7 separate regions of the Homo sapiens genome follow, and regions 1, 2, 3, 4, 5 and 6 are each linked to region 7. Evidence: fine-mapped expression QTL. A gene starts in region 7. Each other region holds a variant in brackets. All regions are shown on one strand. Distances are from middle to middle. Region 1 overlaps SGK1 (serum/glucocorticoid regulated kinase 1). Region 2 overlaps LOC101928277 (a long non-coding RNA gene). Region 3 overlaps LOC105378009 (a long non-coding RNA gene). Region 4 overlaps SGK1 (serum/glucocorticoid regulated kinase 1). Region 5 overlaps LOC101928277 (a long non-coding RNA gene). Region 6 has its middle 24 kb from the start of LINC01010. Region 7 holds the start of SGK1 (serum/glucocorticoid regulated kinase 1).

Region 1 (4,068 bases), 150 kb before region 7:
GCAGACAGATCACTTGAGGCCAGGGATTCGAGACCAGCCTGGCCCACATGGTGAAATCCCATCTCTACTAAAATACAAAAATTAGCCAGGCATGGTGGTGCATGCCTGTAGTCCCAGCTACTCAGGAGGCTGAGATGGGGGGATCACATGAACCCAGGAGGCGGAGGCTGCAGTGAACCAAGATCACACCACTGCACTCCAGCCTGGGCGACAGAGTAAGACCGTGTCTCAAAAAAAAAAAAAAAAAAAAAAAAAATTCTCACCCTCTTGTGTGGCATTCTCCTAAACTTCACAGACTATTTCTCAATTTCCATCTCAACTAACTGCTTTAGGTCGGCCTTCTTCATCAGGCTCTGGAAGGGCGAAGTTGTCTGCTTTGTCCACTACGATATCCTGAGCACTCGCAATAGAGCCCAGAGTAGGCTTTCAAATATTTCTGGAAAGAATTACCTGTAACTGAAGACAAGCCAAATGTCAGGACAAATAGTCCAACTTCACAGGACAGGCAATAAATACAGGAAGCATTACTTCATAGCAATCCTTGCAAGATGAGTAAATTGCAAAGGATTTCCTTGGATGGATTTATGAATGACAGACACCATAAAATGCTGCTAAAAAGGCCTGGAACGTAGGTTGGCTTTAAGACCATCCTATACTCCCCTGGAGTCAGAAACCACTGCTGTTGGGAGCAAACCACTAAGCAGGAAATTACAGCAGGATTTTCATGGTTTTCAATTTTAAACTAACCCATGATTACCCCCTTAACCAAAATATACAAAATAACACATGACACAATATATGTAAATATTTTTCAAGGTTTTATTGCAAACCAAAATCAGTTTATCACACACAAAAAAAGTTGTGTGATGGGATGAGGGAAGGATTGTACGTATTATAACCATGTTAATTACAGTACATTAAAATGGTGGTTTACATTACAAATAAGCCTGTAAGTTTAAATATACTAGTGTTATAACCCAATGTACAGACGTTCTTTATACAATACATACAATTATCAGGAATGCAAAAAAAAAAACATAAATAATGCCCATTTTACAGGTGACATTTTAAACAATGAAAAACACCAACGGCTCTGACTGACAACTGGGGCATTGGTCCATAAAAACCCTTTCTAAAAATAGAAATATTTGTAGCAGCAATGCTTTCTTTAAGCATCTGAATACGAGTCATTGCAAGACCATTTCAATAAATTTTAGTTATTAACCGTATCTTACAAAAAAGTCTACACATAAATTTATCTTCCAAATATGGAAGAAACAAACAATGTCCCACGTTGTAGTGTCCTGCAAGTGTCACATTGATGCTTATAACAAAATCCATCTGTGATCAGGCATACCACACTCACACGACGGTTCACACAGCATATCCACAAGGGAAAATAAAGAACTGAAACACTGCGATAGGAAAAGCTTTGGAGCTAACACAATCTCTTCAGAAAAGGCACATTTCATAATATTCGTCATCACAGCCCAGACAGATCTGCAGGAGACCTTTTTTAGAACAGCGTCCGCTTTCTAACGAAACTCCTGCCTCCGTCTAAGGCGGCACTCTAACGCTCGTTTCAGAGATAGCACCACGTTGGAAGGAAGAATAAAAATGAAAACCTCATGAGCTCACTGAGGAGAATGTGCTCTTCAAAAAGCTTCCAGCGAACAGTGTGCAATAAGATTGCTAAGCTTCCAGAGATGTGCAAATTCTCTTGTAAGATGTCCTGTCAGCTGGCGGCTCCACCAAAAGGCTAACTAAAACATTCGGAAACACACATAAAATCCTTTAAAACCAAGCCCTAACAGGGTTCAGAGGAAAGAGTCCGTGGGAGGCGCATAGGAAAAGCCTAGGAAAGCCTCGGCAGCTTCCTTGACGCTGGCTGTGACGAGGACGCTGTCAGGGGACTTGCCAATGGAGTTGGGGACAGGCTCTTCGGTAAACTCGGGGTCAAAGTGCCGTAGGTCGTTGGGCCCACTCTGTGACGGGAAGGGAAAAACACTC[T/C]TGTCAAGAACTCACACTAGACACAGGACAGGGAAATCTTGACCAGGCTTTAAATACCAAGTTTAAGTCTTATATCAACTTCCATAATCACCCACTTCAAGCACAAAATCTCAAAAGGCTACACACAGTTAAACATAAGAATAATGTTCACTTGTTGCCTTTTGGTGCTTCGAATTGATAAATGTGTCTAAAAATTATGGGAGCCTTGTTGGGACACAAAAATGTGCTTTTTATGTAGGTAAAATAACAGGTTTATGGAGAAAACATCTGCCAATGTATTCCTTCCAACCCTCCCCCAGACAATTCTGAATTAAAATAAATGCCCTTTGGGCTTCTCTATACTTAGAAGAGAGACAGATACTCACCACATTTGGGTTAAAAGGGGGAGTAATCTTCTTATTAATGAGATCATCCCAGTTAATTAAGGAGAAGAAGACATGACTCTTAATCTCCATCTGTTGATAAGAAACCCAAGATTAATTTAGACAGGTGCATTCAATAAGGGCAGGGAGGTCTAGTGCACGTCCCGGCCGGCCCAGGAGGACAGGAAAACATCACTCACGAAGTCATCCTTGGCCCCGAGCCGCTTTGTCCTGTCCTTCTGCAGGAGGCCCTCCAGGAGGTGTCTTGCGGAATTTGTAATATTTGGTTTCAGCTGGAGAGGCTTGTTCAGAATGTTGTCGTACATTTCAGCTGTGTTTCGGCTATAAAAAGGCGGCTGAAAGAAGGGGAAAATTACTTTAGACTTAATTGGAAGTTTCATATGGCACACATTACCAGTAGAGAAAAAGATATAAACGGCAATAAATATTAGGCTCGATTTGAGAAACTCTCCCCACCTCAATGCTTTCTTTTCCCTTGCTATTTAAGTGTCTACTTTGCAACCCGTGTGTGTGTTTGTGTGTGTGTGTGTGGAGGGTGAGGGGGTAGATGTTAATAAGTGGTAGTTTTTCACCACCACACAGGTTCAATGTGGTCCTATCTAGTAAAATGTGAAATGCACAAAAGAACCAGGTAAGTGATTATTCTTATGAACTATAAAATAACCAATATGCCTCTTAGCTGCTTTTGATAAGCGTACTGGTAAGGGCAAGACACCATGGCCAAGCATGGGCTGTGTGAAGGCAATATTGTAGGGAGCAGGCAGTGTTCCATGGTTCCCAATGTGCCACTCACCAGGCCATACAGCATCTCATACAAGACAGCTCCCAGGCACCACCAGTCCACAGTCCTGTCATAAGGCTGCTTATGAAGCACCTCAGGTGCGAGATACTGAAAAACAGACCAGGGAAACAGCGTTTAGAACCTGCGAAAGCAAGCAATCCCACGACCACACATTTAGTTTGAAAAAGCTGAGAGACCCAGAGCCAGCTTGGAAGATAGATATCTTTAGATTCCTTCCTGATAAAACTGCTGGACTTTTTGAGGGTGACTGGCTACCTATGTGTACTGACATTTAGGAAACTGCTGGGCACTTGATATCTCTTACTTAGGGATTTAGAAAGTTTTTATGATGCAGATCTTACTTACAAACAGCTACTTTTCAGTAAAGGAACAGAAGGACTTGGGATTTCTCATGCTACATCAAACAGCAAATGTATTTTATTTGCACTGAACTGTATTAAGAAGTCTCTGAGAGGAGTTTACTCTTTTTGGTAGTTAAGTGCATGATTGTACATCTCTCTCTTGGAAGGCGGGGGTAAACCAGGCACCAAACCAAGACAGCGCCTACCTCCGGCGTGCCACAGAAGGTGGATGTTGTGCTGTTGTGTTCAATGTTCTCCTTGCAGAGTCCGAAGTCAGTAAGGACAATGTGTCCCTGTGAATCTAGCAAAATATTCTCTGGTTTTAAGTCTCTGTAAAAAAGTGAATAGAAAAGTAGTTGCACAAGTTAATTTCACTTCATAAGATATCCTCTTAAAGATAATTGCTAAAGGTATTAGAGGCATTTTAGGTTCACTGTAGTTGTGTAGTGAAGAAAAAAGGGAGCCCTTGTTCTGCTCATCTATTCTGGATTAGGCACAATCCTACTTGGCTGGTTCCCCCTTGGCACTTAAG
Region 2 (4,068 bases), 480 kb after region 7:
CTCTACCAAAGATACAAAACAATGAAAATAAGTCTGACCTTATTTTCAACAAAACATACTTTTTGAATTTGGTTGCCGGTAGAAATAGGAATGTGAAATAATCCTAAAACTTCCCAAGATTTTATACTACACAAGTTAGGTCTTTTTGCTTCCCCTTTAGAGATAAATTGCCTCTTTCAAACATGAATCCCTTTACTTCCAAGAGAATGAGGAATGGCTCTGAGAATCTCAGCAGTTTGGCTCTGAGACAATGAGCTGACTCTTTAAACAGTGGGAGGTGTCAAGAGAAGCCAACTTCAAGGAAATCCAACTTTTTCCTCCCAGCCTCCTCCTCCTGACATACTGATCCAAAAACACATAGGACCTGACCATTTGTAAGAAATGGTGTCACTAGAAAGTCAAATACTACATGTTCTCACTCATAAGTAGGTCTAAAAAATGTACACATGTGGATAAAGACAGTAGATTGATAGACAATGGAGGCATCAAAGTGAGAGGGAATGGGAGGGGGTGGGAAGAGGTTGGGTGATGAGAAATTACTTAATGGGTACAATGTACATTATTCAGGGGAAGGATTTTTTTTTTTTTTTTTTTTAGATGAAGTCTCTCTCTGTCACCCAAGCGGGAGTGCAGTGGCACAATCTCGGCTCACTGCAACCTCTGCCTCCCGGGTTCAAGTGATTCTCCTGCCTCAGCTTCCTGGGACTACGGGTGTGTGCCACCACGCCTGGCTAATTTTTGTATTTTTAGTAGAGAAGGGGTTTCACTATGTTGGCCAGGCTGGTCTCGAACTCCTGACCTCGTGATCCACCCACCTCGGCCTCCCAAAGTGCTGGAATTATAGGCGTGAACCACTGTGCCCGGCCTAATATCTTAAAGCCCTGACTTGACCACTACACAATCTATGCATGTAACAAAATTGCACATGTACCCCATAAATATATACAATTATTAAAAAAAAAAGAAATGGTGTCAGAAAATGGGACTTAGGAGAATGATTGGAAACTCCTTTTCTTACTTACTTATTGATTGATAATCTTTCTTAAATCACAAAGGTTCTGAGGTGACATTAAAAGTAATATATACACAAAAGAGTACAATAAAAATGAACACCAAGAAAGATATAAATCAGACTATATTGTTAGAATCAGAGGCAGAAAAAATAGGACTCCATAAGCCAAAAGGCCCAGAGAGATAACAAAGGTTGGTTTGCAAATTGTCTGAGTTCCCTGTGACCCAAAGTAAAAATGGAAATATTGTCAATGTCATTGTTTCCCCACATTGTTCATCAGAAGAAAAGCCCTGGTTTCCCAAACAAAGCAAAATATTTTCAGTATTTATCCATCTGATGCTGAGGATTATGATGGATGACTCCCCCCTAATATTAGTTGGGGAGGGCTCTTAATTGGCTATTTCTTGTGGCTTCTTTCAATAATAGGCAAAAGCACTACTACAAATAAAAAATAGAAATAAATAACTGGAGGCGGTGGCTCACACCTGTAATCCTAATACTTTGGGAGGCTGAGGCAGGCTGATTGCTTGAGCCCAGGAGTTCAAGACCAGTCTGGGCAACATGGTAAAACCCCATCTCTACCCCAAAAAAAATACAAAACTTAGCTGGGCATGGTGGCACCTGCCTATAGTCCCAGCTACTCAGGAGACTGAGGCAGGAGGATCACTTGGGAGGCAGAGGTTGCAGTGAGCTGAGACTGTGCCAATGCACTCCAACCTGGGCAACAGAGACAGACCCTGCCTCAAAAAAAAATAAAATAAAATAAAATAAAACAGAAACAATATATCTATATTTCTGTCAATTCAATTCATTCCTCTGAATCAATTTCATATTTGGTGATGAGTATAGGTATGTGTATTTCCAAAGCTGGGAACTGGCTTGGGAAGGGAGTAGTAGATGGACCCAGAATTCTAGAACCCAGGACTTGCTGGTAAGCATGTACAAACTCTTTGAGGAGAAAAGGCCTACTGTTGACAGCTTATCTAACACTTTGTCAAACTGCAACAGAAAGAAAATTCATAGCCATGGTCTGTGACTAAAGAAACCAGATCCCATTTTAAGGCCAAATCCTTATAACCTGTTCTTACTTATATGATTAGAAACCACCTTCGCCTTTCATCTTTTACAAAGCAAGTCATTCCTTTCTTTATATACAGACTAGAGATTGGATAACGTGAAAGATGACAGACATTGTCAAACTTGTCCTAGTCACTAGAGTGACTGATGGCCTCCTGAGAATGTCCAGACCTTCTGGCTTAGTGTAAATGTCTCGGGCTATAAATAAAACGTCAGCCTGGCCAGCGTAAATCTACTAAGGC[C/T]AAGAAGTTATTAAAACAGAACCATGAGACGTTACTCAATGAGCCCAGTCTGACACGTGTGGCTATGACTTAAGTCCTCATTTGAGTGCTAAACTAATGCCCCTTACAGACAGAAATATCTGTAAAGACTCTGTCACTGGAATAAATTACAAAATTCCTTTACTGCGTTAATACTTTGAAGACCTTTGAAATCAAGTTATTCGGATGAGTGCATGAAGTCCCAAAAGGGGATGGTAAACAGTGAAGATGTAGCAGGCATGGGGGTCTTACATCAGGAGAAAGAGAAAATAAAGTTTTAACAGTCCAAATAGGAAAACTGACATGGGGTAACAATTAATTATAAATATAGACATAACAAATTTAAATTTCTAAAATTCTATGAGAATATGATCATAAAGGAAGCAATAGATTTTAGCCTTCAAATTAACTTTCTGGTATTTGTTTTAGGTATGAAAAATTCCAGATGGCCACTTGAATTTATAGTAAAGTTACTGTATAAACTCTGGCACTTAAGCAAAATATTTCATCAATTATATATACTTAGAATGTATCATTTTGCAGGGCCAGGTGTGGTGGCTCACACCTGTAATCCCAGCACTTTGGGAGGCTGAGGCAAGTGGATCACTTGAGGTCAGGAGTTCGAGACCAGCCTGGCCAACATGGGGAAACCTGTCTCTACTAAGACTACAAAAATTAGCTGGGTGTGGTGGCAGGCACCTATAATCCCAGCTACTTGGGAGGCTAGGGTAGGAGAATTGCATGAACCCAGGAGGCAGAGGTTGCAGTGAGCCAAGATCATGCCACTGCACTCCAGCCTGGGACACAGAAGAAGACTCCATCTCAAAAAATAAAGTATCATTTTGCCATAAATTTGGAAATCTAATTTCATGAGAATTTATTGAAGACATTTTTTAAAATCCCACTGAAGTGTCAAAATATGTTTTTATAGTCACTTCAGTGTTAATTATATATTTTTATTTTGGCTGTGACACTAATTATCTTAATTAAATTTTTATCACTAGTGCTTATTTCAATGCATTAAATATTATACTTAATGAATGGAAAGTAGTTTAATATCATCTGAAATTCTGTGGAGCCTTTGTAAAGCTAATTTTTCTGCAAGGATGGATCTTAAAAATGCCTCAACCTGATAGATTTGTAGCCAAAGTAATGTCAGTTTAACTTGAACACTCAGCGACCCAAGAAGAGGAATACTTCTTTATTCCAGTAGCAGCTTTATTAGCCAAAAGAATATTGCCCTGAGTGTAATAAAATTCTTACTGTCCAATCAGGTCTTCAGCAATTCAGTTCATCCTCATTCCTCTTTCCAACTTTGCAGCAAAAAGAGTAACCATTAGATGTAGGTCTCCTCAGAGCCCAGCCTTTTCCATTCAGGGCTGGCATTGCTGAAACATCAGCACCTGTTTCTGCAGCGAAGTAAATAAGTGGATAGCACCTCCCTTCATAGCTCATTCTCCCATTTGTAATCACAGACTTGTGTGATTATTTAATCAATGCCTGTCTCATCCAACAGGACATATGTGACAAAAGGGTGAACACAGGGTCCAGGGTAAACACAGGGTCCAGCTTGCACACCGCTGTGCCTTGTACTGTGTCAGGCCCTTACCCACATAATAAATATTTGTTGACTGAAGAAATGAAAATTTAACTTGGGGAATACAATAACAAGCTTCATGATGCCTACCTCACCCTTAATCCAAATGGTGGAAACAGAGA
Region 3 (4,068 bases), 28 kb after region 7:
TAATTTTAATTTTTAATTTTTATTTCTTTTATGAGGGATGGGGTCTTGGGCACTGTCACTCAGGCTGGAGTGTAGTGGTGAAATTATGGCCCACTGCAGTCTTGACCTGCTGGGCTCCTGAGCAACTAGGACTACAGGTGCACACCAACACACCTGGCTAATTTTTCAAATTTTTTGTAGGGTCTCGCTGTGTTGCCCAGGCTTGTCTCAAACTCTTGGCCTCAGGTGATCCTCCTGCCTCAGCTTCCTAAAGTGCTGGGATTACAGGCATTAGCCACTGTGCTTGGCCAACTACTAACCTTTCTTCTCCAAATTCCAGCTCCACATTTCTTTTTTCAATTTTTGAGACAAGGTCTCATTCTGTCACCCAGGCTGGAGTGCAGTGGTGCAATCTGGCTCACTACAACCTCTGTCTCCAGTGCTCAAGTGATACTCCCACTTTGGCCTCCGGAGTAGTTAGGACCACAGGTGTGCATCACCACACCAGGCTAATTTTTGTATTTTTTTTTTTTTTTTTTTTGGTAGAGACAGGGTTTTGCCATGTTGCTCAGGCTGGTCTTGAACTGCCAGGCTCAAGCTATCTGCTCGCCTCAGCCTTCCAAAGTGCTGGGATTGCAGGCATAAGCCACTGTGCCCAGCCCAACTTCACATTTTTATGTTACTGGGTTAGATTACTTTAACGCAGTTAAATTTAAAGTTTAACTTTTAAATTTTCATGTTAGAAATGATAAGCCGGGTGTGGTGGCACATCCCTGTAGTCCCAGCTACTCAGGAGGCTGAGGCAGGAGGATTACTTGAGCCAGGGGTTCGAGGCCAACCTGGACAACATTAACGTAGTGAAACTCCATCTCTAATATAATAAAAATAAAAATAAAAATAAAAATGATAGCCCAGACTAGGATAAAAAGATAAAGCTGCTCTCAGCCACAGGGAAGCACATCTTTTACATACACTCTTTTCCCTGGGCTTCAAGCAGAAGAACTGATAGAAGACAACTCCGTATTTTGCCACAGGTACAAGCTACATAAGGCGGATCCTATGATGGGAAGCTTTGTTTTAATTTTTATTCCAAAATCCTTTTATTCTCCAACTCAAATTTTCAATAGGCTGGGCGAGGTGGCTCACGCCTGTAATCTCAGCACTTTGGGAGGCCGAGGCAGGAGGATCACCTGAGGTTGGGAGTTCAAGACCAGCCTGACCAACATGGTGAAATCCCGTCTCTACTAAAAATACAAAATTAGCTGGGTGTGGTGGCACATGCCTGTAATCCCAGCTACTCAGGGGGCTGAGGCAGGAGAATCCCTTGAACCTGGGAAGCGGAGGTTGTGGTGAGCCGAGATGGCACCATTGCACTCTGGCCTGGGCAACAAGAGTGAAACTCCATCTCAAAAAAAAATTTTTTTTTCAATAGATAAACATGCATTTTGTTTCAACAATTATGGCAAGGCATTGGGCTGGCTATCAGAGATGCAGCAGAGAGCAAGACAATAAATTGGGTTCATGCCTTCCAGGAGTATAAAGACCAGTGGTGACAATTCTTGGAGAATGAGATGGACTCAGGAAAGTAAACGAGAATTGCACTAGGCATACCAAGCACCATGAAGGGAGCACTATATTTGGGAGCATATAATGAGTGCAATCCTAGACTGGGTGACAGAAAAGGCTTCCCTACAGGAACTGATATTTAAGCTGAGAGCTGGAGGATATGTAAGACTGAGCCAAGCAAGCAGAAGGAGGAAGCGTGTTCCAGGCAGACGGACAGCGTGAGTGAGTCCCAAAGGCAAGTGGGAATGGGGCATGTTCCAAGAATTCAAAGGAACTCCTGTGGCTGGAGAGGAGTGTAGGGGAGAGGCACACTTGGAGGCGAGGCCAGGGAGAAAGGCGGGTCAGTGAGGGAGG[T/G]CATTGGCAGCCACGTGATGCAGCCCTTTGCGTGCTGTTATGAAGACGTGGGACTTCAAAATTCTTTCCTTATTTTATACTCTAGGACAGCCACTGTCAGAGAGATTAACTGGCTTTTCTAAAATCAACTATCAGGCTGGGCATTGTGGCTCATCCCTGTAATGTCTGTAATCCCAACACTTTGAGAGGCTGAGGCAGGAGGATGGCTTGAAGCCAGGAGTTTGAGAACAGCCCTTGCAACCTAGGGAGGTCCTGTGTCTACAAAAAATAAAAACATTAGCCAGGTGTAGTGGCACACAGGTGTAGTCCCAGCTGCTCAGGAGGCTGAGGTGGGAGGATCACTTGAGGCTGGGAGGTTAAGGCTGCAGTGAGCTGTAATTGCACCACTGCATTCCAGCTTGGGGCAATAGAGTGAGACTCTGTCTCAAAAATAAACAAAATATCAAAAATCAAATGTCTGTATATTGACGGACCACTGTGTCTTCCTTGGGTTTCCCCAGAGCAGATCATTACACAAGGATTCAATTATTTGGGGGATTAGCTTACGAAACACCAGCAAGGAAAGGGCACAGGAAACCCAGTTCCTGTTTAGTTCTGGTTTGAAGGCCACGGTAGGGGTGGGGTGGGGATATTCATTGTCTGGCACTTCCAGTCTGCTGCCTGGGTGGGGACACTGGGTCCAGAGGCAGCTCTCAGGTGAAGGAATGCAGATGTGGAGAGTTGGGCATTTGGAATGGTGGTCTGCATGCACTGAGTGGCCAGGGCGAGGGGACACGGGCCGGGCACTGAGTTATCTGCTGCAAACAGTTCTATGGCTCTGATTCTGAGCCCCTACACCACACTACATTGGCTGGATTTGACTTGAATTCCACCTGACTAGCAGGTGAAAGATGCTTACTTGATGGTGGATAGAACCAGAAAAGTCACATAACATTCTAGAACTCTGTGCCGAGGCCCCGGCAATACCTCAGGTTCTAGGCCTCTGTCTCCTTCGTCACAGCATGCACTTCCCATAATTCTTTCCTTCACTTCGGAGTCTTAATACCAAAGGAAGACACGCCATTTTGAGCAGCCTATTAATTTGAAAGTGTCAAGTGTAACTAGGGAATAAATGAGACTCCTCAAAATGAGAGCTTAGTGAGGCATGAGGTAGTGAGCAAGGTCAAGCGCTTAGCTTAAAACAGCTGGATTAATTAGGGTAAAGTCTTTGGGCTTGGGATTTGGGGGCCTTTCTGACTCATGCAATTTTTCCAGAAATGAATGGGTCATATGTTTTGGGAATCTGATATTTAATGACAAGTTTTGGGGTTAAAAAAGTTCACAGTAAGTTTATGTTAGCAATAATTGTCCTTGGGGAGATTTTGCGGAGCAAGGGAAAGAGAGATGTTGGTTCTCCTTTCCTTCCTAGCTTTTTGCCCTCATCAAACATTTATAGCTGGAGGCCCTGTGAATTTCAATATCAACATCATGGTTCAGGTGCTCAAGGATTTCATAGTCTGTGAGAAGACAGACACACAGATAAACGCACACTAGCTAACAAGCCATGGAGCCCTGGGGCAATTTGTCAGCCTCTCCGGGCTCTGTTTCATTTGGAAGGACCTTGATGGACAAGTTCAGTGCTTCTCAACCTTGGCTGTTCATTGAAAGTACTTAGGGAACTTAGAAAGAACACCAGTGCCCCAGCTGGCCTCATGGCTCTGGAGTAAGGCCCAGGCGTTGGTATTTTTTTTAAAGGTTTTGCTAACTCTAAAAGTCCTTCCCCCAGTCTCCCCCAACCCACCCAGAGAGCCTGTACTCTGTTTAACTCAACAGAAGACAGGAGGTGGGAGGTGAAAATCACATTCCCTCCTCTTGGTCTGGTGAACACGTAGTGTGAGCGCAGTGGAGCTCTGTGTTAGGTGACCATATGCCAGCCGCCTCTTGGACTCTGAGTGAATAGCTCACCTCAATAGAACGCATAGAACACTCATTCCAGAAATAACAGGTGCCCACATTTTTCTTCCTTGGGAGACACATTCATGGAGCCAACAACTAATTATCATACCAAGAAAACAAAAACCGTGAGGGAGAGCAGAGGCGGGCTGGCAGCACCCTTGAGTTGTACAAACCGTGACTCACTGGTGTTCAAGGCTGAAGCATCTCCGTAGCATCTCTCTGAGAAGTATCCTG
Region 4 (4,068 bases), 75 kb before region 7:
CAGGAGGAGGAATTTAGGATAATTGTAAGATCCAATAAATAACCATGTCAGTAGATTTATGGAGGAATGGAGCTAGAGATGTATAGTGAAAGAGTCTAAAAATATAATGTAGGGAAAGGCATTTTGGCCAGTTAAATATTGTTCGGAATCCTGGCTCTGCCGCTGAATATCCTGTATATTCCTGGACTTGTTAAATAATGTATTTTCCTCATCAGCAAATTGGAAATAATGCTATCTCTTACATACAGTAGTTGTGGAAATTAAATGAGATAATGCATGTCAAGTGCTGAAGATACTTATTGGTGCACAGTAGACATTCAAAAATGATATATTAGTTGTCATTATTCCTAGTACTGTTATTCTTGTTAGCTGAATAATGAGAACAAATATTGAAATTCCCCAGAATGGTTGTTTGTGAACAAGTAGAGAGAAAAACGATTACATCAGGCACCAAGATTAAAGGAAGTGTCTTCGAGGTTAGTAGATGATGACAGTGAGGGCAGAGGAAGGGTGGGTGTGGTTGAGCAAAGTTGGCGAAGTTCTTGAAAGTCAAGTTAGTGCCCGCCGAACTCTTGGCTCTGAGCCAGACAAGACTGGAGAAGAAGCCCTTTCTGCTTGAGGGCATCAGAGAAAATGTTTCATCTTTAGTAGAAAATCAAATCTCAATTAAGGCAGCACTTTCCTGAAGATGTTTCTTTTCTTTTTTTCTTTTTTTTTTTTTTTTTTTGAGACAGGGTCCAGTTCTGTCACTCAGACTGGAGTGCAGTGGCATGATCTCGGCTCACTGCAGTCTCAGACTCCCTGGCTCAAGCAATTCGACCACCTAAGCCTCCTGAGTAGCTGGGACTACAGGCATCCACTACCACATCCGGCTATTTTTTATATTTTCTGTAGAGATAGGGTTTCACCATGTTGCCCAGGCTTCTCTTGAACTCCTGAGCTCAAGTGATCTGCTGCCTTGGCCTCCCAAAGTGCTGGGATTGCAGGTGTGGGTCAATGGACCCAGGCTCTGAAGATGTTTTTTTCTTTTTAGAGATGGAGTCTCGCTTTGTTTTCCAGGCTGGTCTCAAACTCTAGGCCTCAGGTGATCCTGCCACCTCGGCCTCCCAAAATGCTGGTGTGAACCACCCTGCCCAGCCCAAAGATGCTTTTGGTCTGATCTATCTGGGGAATGCTGAGCCTCTCCCTCCTCGGAATTTGTAAGAGTGCACACCCAAATGCAGGCTCTACGAAGTCTGTCTTCCTAGATTGAAATCACATGTAGCCAACAAACTTGTTTATTTATTTATTTATTTTTTGAGATGGAGTCTCGCTCTGTCACCCAGGCTGGAGTGCAGTGGGACAATCTCGGCTCGCTGCAAGCTCCGCCTCCCGGGTTCAGGCCATTCTCCTGCCTCAGCCTCCCGAGTAGCTGGGACTACAGGCGCCCGCCACCACACCCGGCTAATTTTTTGTATTTTTAGTAGAGACGGCGTTTCACCGCGTTAGCCAGGATGGTCTCGATCTCCTGACCTCGTGATCCGCCCACCTCGGCCTCCCAAAGTGCTGGGATTACAGGCATGAGCCACCGTGCCCAGCCTTGTTTTATTATATGAAGTTACAATCCTGTGTCACAAGATGGGAGGGCAGAGGGAGGATTTTGAGGAAAGCTTAATGACCGAATGGTGTTTACTGTCAGGAGTCCCAGAGGAAAGGGAGAGAAGGGATTAATGTGGCTAAGTGAGAAACAAGATAGGCCAGAGACAAGTGAGGTTAAAACTGCATGAAGGGATTGAGCAAGTGGAAGCAATGACCAACGTGCTGGTGCTCATGAACCGCAGAGGGAAGAAAGGGAGCAACTAGGAATTTTGAAATTAGGAATAAGGCTG[G/A]GCGCGGTGGCTCACGCCTGTAATCCCAGCACTTTGGGAGGCCAAGGTGGGCAGATCACCTGAGGTCAGGAGTTCGAGACCAGCCTGGCCAACGTGGCAAAACCCTGTCTCTACTAAAAAACAAAAAATTAGCCAAGTGTGGTGGCACGTGCCTGTAATCCCAGCTACTCGGGAGGTTCAGGAAGGAGAATCGCTTGAACCTGGGAGGCGGAGGTTGCAGCGAGCTGAGATCGCGCCATTGCACTCCAGCTTGGGCAACAGAGTGAGACTCCGTCTCAAAAAAAAAAAAGAATTAGGAATAAGAGTGAGGGAAATGGGCAACTTGGGCCAGTAGCAGAGCTGTTTTGAACATGGGAAATTTACCCACAGTTGCTTTATAGTCCTTCAGACATTTAGAATTTTAAATTTTTTTAATTTAAATTTAATTTTTTTTTTTTTTAGAAATGGGGTCTTGCTATGTTGCCCAGGCTGGTCTCGAACTCCTGGCCTCAAACAATCCTCCCTCCTTGGCTTCCCCAAGTGTTGGGATTACAGGCGTGAGCCACTGTGCCCATCCTAGAATTTTTTAAATTTTCAAAACAGTAATCTGTCCTTGAGTGTGAACTAGATTGTACTGACAATCTGAATAGATATTTCAACTAATGGTTAAAAAACAAACAAAACACCCAAAACACATCTTAGAATGATTCTCATGTCTTCCAAATAAAAATACTTTAAAATGTTGTCAATACTTTTACCTATTTAGCTTATGCCTTTGGTTATAGAAAATATAGAATCAATGATAATGAATTAATAAGAAAATAAAAATAGATATTTCAACTAATGGTTAAAAAACAAACAAAACACCCAAAACACATCTTAGAATGATTCTCATGTCTTCCAAATAAAAATACTTTAAAATTTTGTCAATACTTTTACCTATTTAGCTTATGCCTTTGGTTATAGAAAATATAGAATCAATGATAATGAATTAATAAGAAAATAAAAAATATATTCCATCTTTAATATACTGATGGTTCAGTTTTATTTCTAAATTGTCTGAGATGGAAGTATATTAAACATAAATGGTGAAAGTATAATGGGGACAATTCATTATGTCCTTTGGAAACATTTTCATTGTAAATTCCAGTTGTATTTATTTTTTATTTATTTATCTATTTATTTATTATTATTTGTTTTAGATGGAGTTTCCCTCTTGTTGCCCAGGCTGGAGTGCAATGGCACGATCTCGGTTCACTGCAACCTCCGCCTCCTGGGTTCAAGCGATTCCCCTGCCTCAGCCTCCTAAGTAGCTGGGATTACAGGCATGTGGCAACATGCTCGGCTAAGTTTGTATTTTCAGTAGAGACGGGGTTTCTCCATGTTGGTCAGGCTGGTCTCGAACTCCTGGCCTCAGGTGATCTGCTTGCCTTGGCCTCCGAAAGTGCTGGGATTACAGGCACGAGCCACCGCGCCCGGCCATAACGTGCAGTTTTAAAGTATTATCCTTGATGAAATTAAATTGTTACCAATTTTCCAACCTGCATGATTCATTAACTCTGCACTAATGAATTATACTGCCTGACTTATTCCCAGGAAGCTCTAGATGTTGCTCATCAATCTATGGATAATTGTTGTTTGTGGTTTTTAAGCTCCATTGCATTTTTATCTATATAGATGGAGAATTAAGTCTTGATGTGACAAAGTTGAAAAATAATAAAACCAAAGTTCAGAAAACTCTAAACAATAGTTTTATTTATTTATTTTAATAATATTCATTTATTTATTTTATTTATTTTTAAAATTATACTTCAAGTCCTGGGATACATGTGCAGAACATGCAGGTTTGTTACACAGGCATACACATGCCATGGTGATTTGCTGCACCCATCAACCCATCATCTACATTAGGTATTTCTCCTAATGCCATCCCTCCCACCCCACCCCCTGACAGGCCCTGGTGTGTGATGTTCCTCTCCCTGTACCCATATGTTCTCATTGTTCAACTACCATTTATGAGTGAGAACATGCAGTGTTTGGTTTTCTGTTCCTGTGTTAGTTTGCTGAGAATGATCATTTCTAGCTTCATCCATGTCCCTGCAAAGGATAAGAACTCCTTTTTTTATGGCTGCATAGTATTCCATGATGTATATGTGCCACATTTTCTTTATCCAGTCTAACATTGATGGGCATTTGGGTTGGTTCCAAGTCTTTGCTATTG
Region 5 (4,068 bases), 400 kb after region 7:
ACTTTAAAGCCACCTATGAAGTATTTATTTATATTCTTTTCTTTGGAATTAAAGAAATCCCAAATATAAGAATAGGTTTTAGAGCTTCCATTGCAAATTCATTGCCAAGGGTAAAATATGATGGAGTAGTTTAAAAGGAACATCTAGTCAACTAGCCATTCTCTCCTCCAGGGAAGGAATTTCTTCTACAACACCTCGTGGCCAATAGACGTTTTTCTTCTACACAAACACTTTTAGTAACATGTGACTTTCTAGCCAACACCCAGCTGTTGGAGTGAAAAATCTAAAAATAGAAATTATTCAACAAAATCACTCCAAATTTGCTTAAATGCAAATAACCTGAGATGCTCTGTAATCCAAAACAACAGCTCCGGAAATAATTGCTGATACGTTTATTGATGCTGCAATATTGGGAGTTCCAAGGTAGAACCCTGTGGAAGAGAAGAAACTCAACCATCACCAGTCAATACTAGCAAACATATAAGCGGCACAGGCTACAAGTAAAGCTCTGAACAAGACACGAACTTGAAAGAAGCCAATGCCAGAAGCCTTGCTCTTGAGATGCTTACAGCCTGAGTGGTCAGGGCACACACACACTAACCCAAGGTCACACAACATTGATGCTAAACAAGTACCAGAAGAAATAAATCTTCACTCCATGTTTTGTGAACCCATTCATTTGTGGTTCCATTTTGCCTCCTACTCTTGTTTCCTTTTGCCTGGATGTTCTGAGCTTTTTATTTGTTTAGCCTTGCTGGATTATATGCATCTTATTCAGCAATTTAGAGATAAGGTGGAGGCACTACTCCGCAGTACAGCAAAGTAGTTAGGAGCTGAGATACAGCTTATCCACCAGTTTCTATAAAATGCCCATTCTGGCTCAGGGTCAACTGAGTTGGCCCTAGCCAACTGCTATGCCTTCTGAAAGTCACCACTCACTGACATCAGACTGCTTAGCTGCATCATATTCGCCTGGCAAATACTAATCTCATCACTCAAAATTCAGTTCCAAAAAACTGCACTGGGACTGAAGCAGGACTCTTTGTGCAAAAATAAACCAGGCATTTCAAAACATTTGAAATCAAATAGATGAAAATGTTGCAATATTACTTTTCAGACATTTGCTTTGTCTAATTTGCTTTTCATTCACTAGTTTACATTTTCTAAAAGGACTTGTATTTTTATGATGTGCATGACTTCCACACTGCCCACAATCAATGTCAAATGAAAGACCTAACTTGTTACCTAGTCCTCTGCCTACTAAAACAGTGCTGTCTAATCAGGCATCTCTCTGCGGAAACAGGCCTTCCTACAGCAGGAAGCAGAGGAAAGAGGACTGGAGACAGCAATCCCAGCGGCTTTTTTGCCAGAAAGGACAAAATGGCTCTTCTGGCAACTCCTGACTCAGGAAATCGCTGAATTAAGTAGTCAATCTGCAGAGTAATTTAGCATGTCATCTGCTTCCTGGCAACAGATATTTGGAAGCATTTTTATTTTAATTCATCTCTGTCATCATCAGGGTTATAGCTGCTTCTCTCTGAGGACCTCAAGGTCAGAGATGTGGGACCTCAAGGTCAGAGATTTTTCTGTAGTTCTTATAGAGCCAGTTCTTTGAGCTTCTTCCTGCCCTGTCTAGGCCCCAGTAGGCTCACTTCTCCTTTGATTTTGGTCAGGTCAAGCAAACCCCTGTCATCAGAGCTAAATATAAGTTGTATGTAAGTGGGTGGAGGCCCTTGCAGTGGGTTCCCTGGAAAATACACTTGTAAGTGTACAAAAGAATGAAGGTGCAATTGCCTGCCCAGGAGTTGCAGAAGCATCATTGTCTGTGGGAGACAGGAAAGGAATTAAGAGGTCAGCAACTCAGGCTCTCATTCCTGCTTCATCAC[G/A]GACTTTCTGTGTAATGTTGCACAAATAATTTTCCTTCCCACTCCTCCACTTCTCTATTTTAGGCGTGAACAAACATCAGTCATCTTCCTCACTTGCAGACATTAAAGAGAGTTAATATGAGCATGTTACAAACAAATAGCCCTAACTTCACACATTGAGGAGACCAGTAAACACATGCTGTGGGTGATCCTTCTTTATGTGGATAGAGCAATTTCTTAAAGCTGGTGAACATATGTGTCCACAAAATCCCTAAAAGGAATGTGTGTAAAATAGATGTACCAGGACCATGCAATTCTTATTGTACAAATGCATTTGCAGATTGTTACTATTTGGGAATAACGATGGCCTAATCCAGGTGAGGGTAATAATACATCAGGAAGGTAATAATTTTTATCTGGGGCAGAGGTCACTTTGCTCCTGTCTTAACAGGGGCTCTCTATGGCTTCGGCAAGAGGGCCCAAAAATGCATGTCCTGACATTGCAAATGGCAAAACAGAGATCTCAACCAAATATTCATGAAGCACTGTGTTTGGAGTCTCCCAGCATCGAGCCCCATATCTTCAAGAAAAATCTAAACTAAGCTTTTTACATACCTTTATTGCCTTTGACCCTCACAGCAACTCTGTTAAGTCAACAGAATTATCCCAATTTCACAGATAATGAAAATGAAGCTTAAGAAGGCCAAATAATATTTCCATAGATCATATAGGCATTGAGGGGTGGGACTGGGATTTTTAATCTGTCTGATCCCAAAGTCCGTCCTCTCACCCGGTTTCCATTAGATGATGCTATCTTCCATGCACTGTATCTTTTATGCTCTATATGCCTAAGTTTTCTAATCTATAAAATGGGAATAATAATACCTAACTAATGAAAATCAAGAGATTACCTATATGAGGGCATTTTACAGAAATGTAAATTGTTATTCTAATAGTAATTCCACGTTCATCTCTTCCACTGTCAGCCTCATTATTATAAACACATGTGAAAAGTTTATACTAGGCCAGTTATATGGACCTTGCTTGGCACATAACTGAAATGTAACTTTACATTTCATTGACTTTAAGGAATTTACATATTTTAACCCAGTTCAACTATATTTTGAGGTGCTGCATCTCAGGAGTTCTTGTAGATATCTAATTCCACATTAATCATTGATCTACCTTTATATTATTGCTTCAAAAGTCTTATTTAAAAATTCACATATTTTTAAGCACTGTCATATTCTTTACGAAAAACCTTGCATGGAAATCAGATGGTAGCTAAGTAAATGTGACTTCAAATTCATGGATAAATATCAAAACAGGAGACTAATGGAATACATAGAGAGATCTGTTCATGCCCTGACTTTCTTCTAATTGTCTGTAATCCTGACCTTCCCAGTAGACAGAGAGGAATAATATACTCAGAACTTGCCCTGCCCTTCAGGAAACATGGGTAAAACCTAAATAAAGATTGTTTGTGTATGATTATAAACAATTTGCTATTCAAATTCAATAATGGCACTCGGTAGGCAAACTATCCTAAAAACTTTCCTATTAACAACTAAATTCCAAAGTTTAGCATTGCAAAACCACATAATTTGAATACATTTTTGAACCATCTGATGGAAAATTATATTGATTCCACATGTGTAGAGCTTGTAAGTAGCTCAGTAATTCCTTCACTCTTTTCAGACACAAAGTAACGGCCTCTTTAACGGCCTCTTTTTCTTTCCCTCATAGAAAAGTAGGCTATTTTTCCAGGGTCGGGAGAATGTGGAGGAGGGAGGGCTATAATGAAAGTATGTAATTCACTCAGGACTTGTGGGGCAGTATTAGAGATTATGGAAAGATTTGCTTCACAGAATACAGTTCCTGTGGAGAAAAAAGAGTCCCACTACATCAGGAATTAGCACACAGCCATACAACAAGCTGAACTTTTTGTTATTTTAAAAAATCTTCGAGTTATACTGTATGCTTTTCTAATACTGATAGAAAACAGTTTCAGCAAAGTGCACTAAATAAATAGAACAGTGCCTTACCTTTAAAAAAAAAATCTATATTCAGGAGCTATTCTCCTTCACATTTTGAAATTCTTTAGCTGGAGAAATGCTGGGTCATGAGACACAGGGTCATAGCATCTGGGTTTGATCCAGACTTTGTGATCTCTAAATCATCTTATGCCTTTGAATACATTCCA
Region 6 (4,068 bases), 96 kb after region 7:
CCAAGCTTGCTTTTGTAACAATCTGGTCTCAGTAGAACTAACTAATTCTTTCATTAATGGCATTAATCCTTTCATAAGGGCTCTGCCCTCATGACCCAATCAACTCTTAAAGGCTCCACCTCTTAATATTGTTACATTGACAAGTTTCCAGCACATAAACTTTCGGGGGATACATTTAAATCATAACATTGCTATATACTGAAGACTGAAAACCAGAGGTCTACACACATCAGGTAATTTGAAAAATAATGAGCTGAATCAGGAAACCAGCTGGCCAGCAAGTATCCAGTGTGAAGAGGTGGTGGTCACGCCCTGCCTGAAAATCTAGAGGCTTTGTACCCACCACCTTCCCACAGCCAAAATGTGTGGTTGTCACCAAAAGAAACAGCTACATTGTGGCCCTTAGGACTAGTCCTAATTTGAGGCACCAGGGACTTTAAAAGCTGTGGTCAAACACTCACATCCCAAGCATTGAACTACTCAAAATGCTTCTTCAGCACTAATCCTGAGTTCTGATTCTGTTAACTGGGCTTGTAGCTATTCCAGACACCCAGACTGATGAGGGCCCCAGTCCCCATAAGGGTTCTTCATTTATTTCCAGTGCATAATGCCTTGCTTCCGAATCCACTTAGCCTTCAGTCCCTGTAATATTGGGGTGTTGCTTTGATTGTACCTGCTCTCCACTCACCCTGCAGGTACTAGAGTCCTTCTCTGAACCATACACAGAGGTCCTGTTCCTATTCCCTAATGACAGAGTTTCCCCAAAGCAAACAAAGTTCTTTGTTTACGAATTGACCAGCTCTTGAATTCTTTACTGCTTGTTAGGTCATCTGATGCCAAATGCTTACCTAGACTCCTGAAAGTTGGCTTTTGTCTACTTCCAGAAACCCCTCAGGTGAAGTAGTTCTGAAATTTTAGTGTGCATCAGAGTCCTCTGGAGGGTCTGTTAAAACACATATTACTGGGCTGCAACCCATGAGCTTCTGATTCTGCAGGCTTGGGGATGGGGCTAGAGAGTTTCCGTTTCTAATGTGTTCCCAGATGATGCTGGGACCTGCACTTTGAGAACCACTGCAGGCCTGCTAACAGATTGTTAGAATAAATGTTCTTTTTTCCAGGAGGTAAGCCTGTACCCATCCTCTAGGAAGCAAGACTGATTCATGGTCCCAAGGCCTCTGATTTTTCCAAATCTGATTTCAGTTTTTGAGGTCATATCTAGCCTGATGAAAGTTGGCTATATATGAACAATCTACCCTCTTCAGTATAGTGGCTATTTGACTGAATTCATTCATGAATTCCACTTTCAAACTACTTTGTAGATACAGATGCAGAACTATATTTTTTGCAGGATATTTCCTTTTGCAAAGAAGAAACAGGGCTGCTTAAAATACATTATGAAGCTAACCTAAATTACAGAGTCAGTAACATCATTGCCATTTCCTGAGCCTCTAGTATATAGCCAGCTGTTTCACATATGCATCATTCAAAGTCCTGGTAGAAAAGATATTCCATATTTCCTCTTGGTAATTTGATGAGAATTCAACAAAGAAACGGTTTACAAAGTGTGGGTAGGGTTTAAGGAAACCACAAAGGATGGCATAGCACCCCAGGGCGAGGAGGAGTGGGACCCTAGTGCTGACAGGAGTGAGGGTAGCTGTTTAGAAGAAGGCTGCCTGTGGGCTGGGCACAGTGGCTCACGTCTGTAATCCCAACACTTTGGGAGGCCAAGGCGGGTGGATCACCTGAGGTCAGGAGTTCAAGACAAGCCTGATCAATGTGGAGAAACCCAGTCTCTACTAAAAATACAAAATTAGCCAAGCATGGTGGCACATGCCTGTAATCCCAGCTACTTGGGAGGCTGAGGCAGGAGAATTGGTTGAACCCAGAAGGCAGAGGTTGTGGTAAGCCAAGATTGTGCCATTGCATCCAGCCTGGGCAACAAGAGCAAAACTCGGTCTCAAAAAAAAAAAAAAAAGAAGAAGAAGAAGGCTTCTTTTGTAGGCTTCTGTGCATGAAGCAGCTGACCCACTGCCTGTTTCTCCAGATTCTTTCAGCATCTACCCATTA[C/T]CCAATCCCATAGCCACTTCCACATTTTCAGATATTTATTCTAGCAACAACTTCACTTCTTGGTACCTGTTTTCTGTCTTTGTTTTCTGTTGCTATAACAGAATACTTGAGACTGAGTAGTTCATAAAGAAAAGACATTTATTTGGCTCATGGTTCTGGAGGCTGGGAAATCCAAGGGCATGGCAGCAGCTTCTGGCAAGGGCTTTAGTACCACATTGTAACATGCCACAAAAGCAAAAGGGCAAGTGAGCATGTGCAAAAGAGATCACAAGACTGAGTCAAGCTTGTTTTTGTAATAATCTGGTCTCAGTAGAACTAGCTAATTCCTGCATTAACAGCATTAATCCATTCATAAGGGCTCTGCCCTCATGACCCAATCAACTATTAAAAGTTCCACCTTTTAATATTGTTACATTGATAATTAAATTTCCAACACATGAACTTTTGGGAGATACATTTAACCTGGCAAGGAAGGAGCTTGGAGAGTAAATTTCTGAATCTCCCTCTTCTCTCAACTCTGATCATCCTCTGGTGCCTCCATGGGCATATCCCATAGAAAGTCAGGTGGCAAGAGAACTTGTTGAAGCCATTCATATGGGTCAACCTCCCAAGACATAGCACTTATCAAAAAGGGTAAAACAACCAAGTGAGGTGGCTCACACCTGTAATCCCAGTACTTTGGGAAGCCAAAGTGGGAGGATCACTTGAAGCCAGGAGTGTGAGACCAGCCTAGGCAACACAGTGAGACTCCACCTCTCCAAAAAATAATTTGAAAATTAACTAGTGTGGTGGTACACATTTGTAGTCTCAGCTACTTGGAAGGCTGAGGCAGGATAATTGATTGAGCCCAGGAATTTGAGGCTCAGTGAGCTAGCATTGTGCCATTGTACTTGCTCTGAATGGGAGACAGAGTGAGACCTTGTTTCTAAAAAAAAAAGGGGGGGGTGGGGGGAGCAGACATGGTGGCTCACACCTGCAATCTCAGCACTTTGGGAGGTCAAGGTGGGAGGATCACTTGAGCTCAGGAGTGTGAGACCAGCCTGGGCAACATAGTGAAACCTTATCTCAATTAAAAAAGAAAGACTAAAAAGAAGTAAGGAAGGAAGGAAGGAAAGAAAGAAAGAAAGAGGAAGGGAAGGGAAGGGAAGGGAAGGGAATGGGGAAAGAAGGGTAAAGTGTGAATCTGGAGGGATCCACACAACTTGTTACTGTTATGCAGACCTTTATATCAGCCAAATCAGGAAAACACTATTCTCAGCTTACAAGCTCTGAGGGGCTAGGTAGCCTACTTTGTTAACATGGCAAATAGGCTGTAGAGCAATTCACCAGTCCCCTTCATTTATCCTAACCCCATTAGAAGAAGGGGACTGAAGAGAAGAGACACCTCCCCAGAGAACCAGGGACCCTCCCCAGGTTCTGTGTTTCTGTCATCCTGGGAATGTTCAGCAGCATAGAGAGCTTCATAGCATGTGCTTCTGAGAAGCTGGGACTAGGCGGTGTGTTGTTGGGGGTTCTGGGTTTGTTGGGAGAAAGCCTGGCTTCCGATGCTCAGCGTTTCCTCTAATTGTGCAGCATCACTGCACAGACCAGAGGAAGGACATATGTATTCCCTGGGGTCTACGAGAAATAGCAAAAAGGCCTGACGTAGATTAAGCCTTGCTTCCTTCTTCTGGTACATTGGTACATGTCACTCCCTTCTTTGCTAGTCAGTCACTGACTTTCTGTGAATATCATCAACAGTCAGTCGTTATTTACCAAATGCTATCGTGTACAGGGCTGGTATGCAGGTCTCACATTTTTCATTGTAAATAATAGTACTTGTGAAACCTTTGGTTCGAAGATTTCGATCTTTGTCATCAATTACATCTCAGAATAATTTACTTGATGCTTATTAATGATTTCAGCATTCTTGGGTGAAAGGCATTATACATCTTTTATTTTTCTCTACGGATGTAGAGTTGAAGGAGAAAGATTTTGCAAGTTGACATTTTTATTTTTTGC
Region 7 (4,068 bases):
GTTTAAATACTGGATAATGGGCTATGGCATTTTTAAAATTAGCAAAACATTTGTTTATTATTGAAAATTAGGGCTGGGCCTGGTGGTGGACATCTGTAATCCCAGCAATTTGGGAGGCTGAGGCAGGAGGACCACTTGAGCCCAAAAGGTCAAGACCACCCTGGGCAATATAGCAAGACCCCGTCTCTAAAAAAAAGAAAAAGAAAGAAAGAAAATTAATTTTCATAAAGGGCTCTTCCCTTGGAAAGAAATATTTTAGCTACAGAGAAAAACTAAGAAGCCTTGTGGAGCTCTGTGAAGTTGCACTGACTTGCTTTCACTTAGCTTGCAGCTCACTAGTGAGATTTCACATGGTACTCCCACTCCAAGAGCAGGGGCCAGGACAGGTTGGTTTCATTTTGGTTTGAATGCATATGCTTTGGCCCACAGACTTGGAGAAAGATTTTGCTTTACTGATGAGAACTCAGTCAAGGGTGCTTGGGAGCCTTCGCTGGCCCTCTAGCTGGGCCTGACATGTTGCCTGCATTTCTAGCCTTGCCTTCCCAGCTTGCCCATTTGGTGCAGGGAGATAGTCCAGCCCACCCTGAAATTCACTGTGTTCTGCGGATGAGTTAACTGAAGGGCTGTGTTTCAGGAGTGGCACAGAAAGGACCTGAATGAAAGGAAGGAGGAATGAATGGAGAGAACCATTTTGGTGGAATTGCCCTAGGGTATTAAATAGGATGGGGCAACTGGGGACTGGAGGATGTTCCTTCTCTTACGTTGCTTAGGAAACACTGTCCTTAAGAGTGTCAGTGTCATTCCTTTAACAATCATTCATTTCTTACCTCCCGCTTGTGTATAAATTTGCAGATTTACACAGACCACCAGTGTGGCCATCCCAGTGAACTGAGTTTATTGTGAAATATACATGCAAAAAAATCCTTTTTTCTCACCTACAACCAATGCAACATTATTCATACTTTGAGTTGAAGAATAAGGAGTTTAAGAAATAAATGCATACAGCAACATAACCCTGAATTATCACTCAAATACAGACCTCCCACTGCTCTCTCCCAAAAAAAAAAAAAAAAAAAAAAAAAAAAAGGCAGTTATTCTAAGCAAAAGCAAAAATTGAGGCAACTTAAAATAGACAATTTTAAATGCTGGATTCCATCATTTCTGTAAAAGGTCATTCTACTCCTTTGCTATTTATACCACAGATAGAGACACAGCAAATTATTGGCTGAATGGATTTGGGAAACCAGAAGCTGCTGCTTCTGACGAACGAAGATGATAATGCATCACTTGAGACTGAGTGGATGAAAGGTGTAGAAAAGTTGAACCCTTCAAAGATGAGAGGAAGCTGCTAAATTAGCCCCTGACTAAATTACTAGCCATAATTGTACTCAAGCCAGTTCTCTTTGCGACTGCCTTGTAATCTTTGTTGTGGCTTGAGAGAGAAAAATCCCCATTCCCAGCTCAAACCCGTTTAAGGCATCTCAGCCCAACCCCCTCCTCCCAATGCAACTCTTCATAGCCCCCTGCCCCTCCTCCAACAAATTCTAATCAAGTCAGGTATAGTTCTCAGCTTTACCACTGCCATCAGAAGCACGGCTTACATTAAGGGTTTAGCAACAAAACCTCAGGCTTACTTCAGGCAAACATTCAAAAGCATTTAAGAGAAGCACAGAAAACAAAAGAAATAAGCAAAACCTGTCCTTACCCGCTTCTTAAAAAATTGGAAGGCTGAGCATTTCTTGACTGGGAATCCATTCATGTCTTTGTTTACCATTTTCCACCGTGGGGAATTCACAGTTATAGATCCAGGTTGGCACCCGCCTGGTTAGTGCATATCTGTTTCCCCGGTTTACCTCCTGCAGACAGTTAATGAAGACTGAGCGGGATGGAGAATCTAGCGGGGCTCAGTTCTTCACTCGCGCATTCTGCAGCACCAGCTACTGCAGCAACCTCTCCCCACTTTCAGTTGCCACCGACAGCGGCTTTTCTCCTTCCATCATTGCTCCGAAACATATGCATCACCGCTGCAGGACCCTGGGGGCCGGACGGTGGGATACGGCCAATCTCCGGGGAGATGCTGTGGCTCTTACCGAGCGGGAGAAGGGTACGCCTCCCCGCCCCCAGCTACCTGGCTGCTCTTCCGCGGCCGGCGCGGGGAGCGAGTCGCTCTTCTCCAGGTGATGCGCTCCTGGAGGCGGCTTGAGAGAGGAGAGTTGTTTTTGATTGTGCAAGTTCCAGTGGGAGCTGTAGTTAAGCAGCTGAGAGAAGGAGTAAGAAAGAGCAGAAGCCAGAGGGAGGGAGGGAGAACAGCGCCAGAAAGGCAGAGGGAGCGAGAAGGCGAGGCTGGAAGAAGCAACGGTTCATGAATATCTGAGCAGCGGATGGAGAGAAGGCACAGCCGGCTCAGGGCACACTGAAGAGCAGTTGACTCCCCTTGGGAGGGTTACTTTAAATAGCTTCTTTTCTTTCTTTCTTTTTTTTTTTTTTTGGTTAGGACCATTTAAATCAGAGTTTCATATAAATTGCACACCGTTTTTATTTTATGCTCATTGACATTCTTTTGAATCCTGTTGCTGAATAAAAGCCTCTCAACGGAAATGTAATCACATTTAATCTCGACCTGTCCAAACGTGGAAGAAAATGAAATAAAGTGCAAGCGTAGGTATAACAATGGAAGATCTCTCACTATGTAGAAGCTCTTTTAGCCTCCCCTCCCCTACTTGTCATTATATAGTGGGCAATGGTGACGGTAATTGTGTCTTTTTCATTAAAACAGCTTATTAAAAAAAGAACACAATGAACATATACAAAGTACTTTATTACACACATACACACACACACGAGTTATTACCAAAAAGTACTACTGAATCCATTTAATGATGAGGAAGGTTTGATAAATAAAAGAGTAAAGCATTCTTCCTATTAGGTGAAAAATTTCCCAAAAAATCCTTACTCATGTTATCCTTTGCACACTGAGCTCCTTTTAAAAAAGCCATTTAATTGTATGTGGCTTATTTTTCCATTTTTATTCTTTAATGTTGATATTTTATGGGAATGATTTTAAAGATTAGTTGATAGTAAAGCAAGAAAGCAAAGAAAATAAACTTGGCATCTGACCTGGCAGAAAGCCACCAACATCGGTGTGTGGCTTTCTGCCATCACCTGACCTCACTGTGCCTTTCGGACACTGCCTCATCCATAAAATGGAGGCAGCCACTCATTCATTCATTCACTCATTCATTTATTTAGTCATTCATTATTTGCTATTTCATTCCATTAATAAATCTAACTCTGACAAGTGTCCTCAGGATGTGGAGCCTTTTCATAATCATCACAAGGGAATATAATTGATAAATAAGTGAAAGGCGCAATGCTAATTTGAAACTGATTATGACCTCATTATATATAACACACCTAACATTGTTAAAGTATTTACATGGAAGTCTCTGGTAAGAAGAGAAACATCAGGTTAAACTGGGAAAGAAATGCATGGGTTTCATTGAATTGGACTATAAATCTCTACAGTTGGGCCAGAGTTTTTGGGAATAAACATGAAATCCTGTTTGCTAAATGCCTTGAGGTTTCCAAAAAGAAAATGCAATACAACTAAATGATGGCATGATAACCAAGGGAAAACAACTATTCATTTTGGAGAGATATGTTAAGTTGTCCAAGATGCAAGTATATGTTATGTAATCTACAACATTGATAAGTTTTTGTGGTTCTTCTAAAGAGTTCATTTAAAATTATGGTAGTTCAAAGGGAATTATTTTGAGACGATGGAAGTGTTCTCTATCATGATGATGGTGGTGGTTACATAACTATGCATTTGTCAGAACTCATCAAATTTTATATAGGAAAAGGGAAACTTTTGCTGCATGTAAATTATACCTCAATGGACCTCATTTTAAAAAATGATGGTCATTCAAGTTCTTTCTTTTTCGTCCCATTGCCACTCCCCCAAAAGTGTTTTAACAGACATTTATTGAATTTGAGTAATATACAGGAGGGGACCTTTAAGCACTCTGCTAGGAAGGAGGTGCTGGGGCTTTGCTTAATCCCACATTG

What was found.
Region 1: its variant is fine-mapped to the expression of SGK1 in whole blood (INTERVAL, PIP above 0.99).
Region 2: its variant is fine-mapped to the expression of SGK1 in tibial artery (GTEx, PIP above 0.99).
Region 3: its variant is fine-mapped to the expression of SGK1 in whole blood (TOPMed, PIP above 0.99).
Region 4: its variant is fine-mapped to the expression of SGK1 in whole blood (TOPMed, PIP above 0.99).
Region 5: its variant is fine-mapped to the expression of SGK1 in whole blood (TOPMed, PIP above 0.99).
Region 6: its variant is fine-mapped to the expression of SGK1 in whole blood (TOPMed, PIP above 0.99).

Annotation. Positions count from the first base shown.
Region 1 is chr6:134,168,451-134,172,518 of GRCh38, forward strand. SGK1 (serum/glucocorticoid regulated kinase 1) reads right to left here. Exons shown (of 14, transcript NM_001143676.3): 10 at 3,743-3,866; 11 at 3,187-3,282; 12 at 2,573-2,728; 13 at 2,376-2,465; 14 at 806-1,985. The coding sequence ends at 1,818. Among named protein-coding and RNA genes, the nearest start is that of SLC2A12, 120 kb to the left of the region's middle. The variant T/C (reference allele first, on the strand shown) is at 2,011.
Region 2 is chr6:134,795,620-134,799,687 of GRCh38, forward strand. The region is part of intron 3 of LOC101928277 (a long non-coding RNA gene); the gene reads right to left. Among named protein-coding and RNA genes, the nearest start is that of ALDH8A1, 150 kb to the right of the region's middle. The variant C/T (reference allele first, on the strand shown) is at 2,332.
Region 3 is chr6:134,344,179-134,348,246 of GRCh38, forward strand. LOC105378009 (a long non-coding RNA gene) reads right to left here. Exons shown (of 2, transcript XR_943002.3): 1 at 4,018-4,068. Among named protein-coding and RNA genes, the nearest start is that of SGK1, 28 kb to the left of the region's middle. The variant T/G (reference allele first, on the strand shown) is at 1,900.
Region 4 is chr6:134,240,341-134,244,408 of GRCh38, forward strand. The region is part of intron 2 of SGK1 (serum/glucocorticoid regulated kinase 1); the gene reads right to left. Among named protein-coding and RNA genes, the nearest start is that of SGK1, 76 kb to the right of the region's middle. RefSeq lists enhancers at 512-571, 612-661. The variant G/A (reference allele first, on the strand shown) is at 1,869.
Region 5 is chr6:134,719,117-134,723,184 of GRCh38, forward strand. The region is part of intron 3 of LOC101928277 (a long non-coding RNA gene); the gene reads right to left. Among named protein-coding and RNA genes, the nearest start is that of LINC03002, 180 kb to the left of the region's middle. The variant G/A (reference allele first, on the strand shown) is at 1,887.
Region 6 is chr6:134,411,346-134,415,413 of GRCh38, forward strand. No RefSeq gene overlaps it. Among named protein-coding and RNA genes, the nearest start is that of LINC01010, 24 kb to the right of the region's middle. The variant C/T (reference allele first, on the strand shown) is at 2,068.
Region 7 is chr6:134,315,687-134,319,754 of GRCh38, forward strand. SGK1 (serum/glucocorticoid regulated kinase 1) reads right to left here and starts at 2,426. Exons shown (of 14, transcript NM_001143676.3): 1 at 1,706-2,426. The coding sequence starts at 1,774. RefSeq lists an enhancer at 1,974-2,253.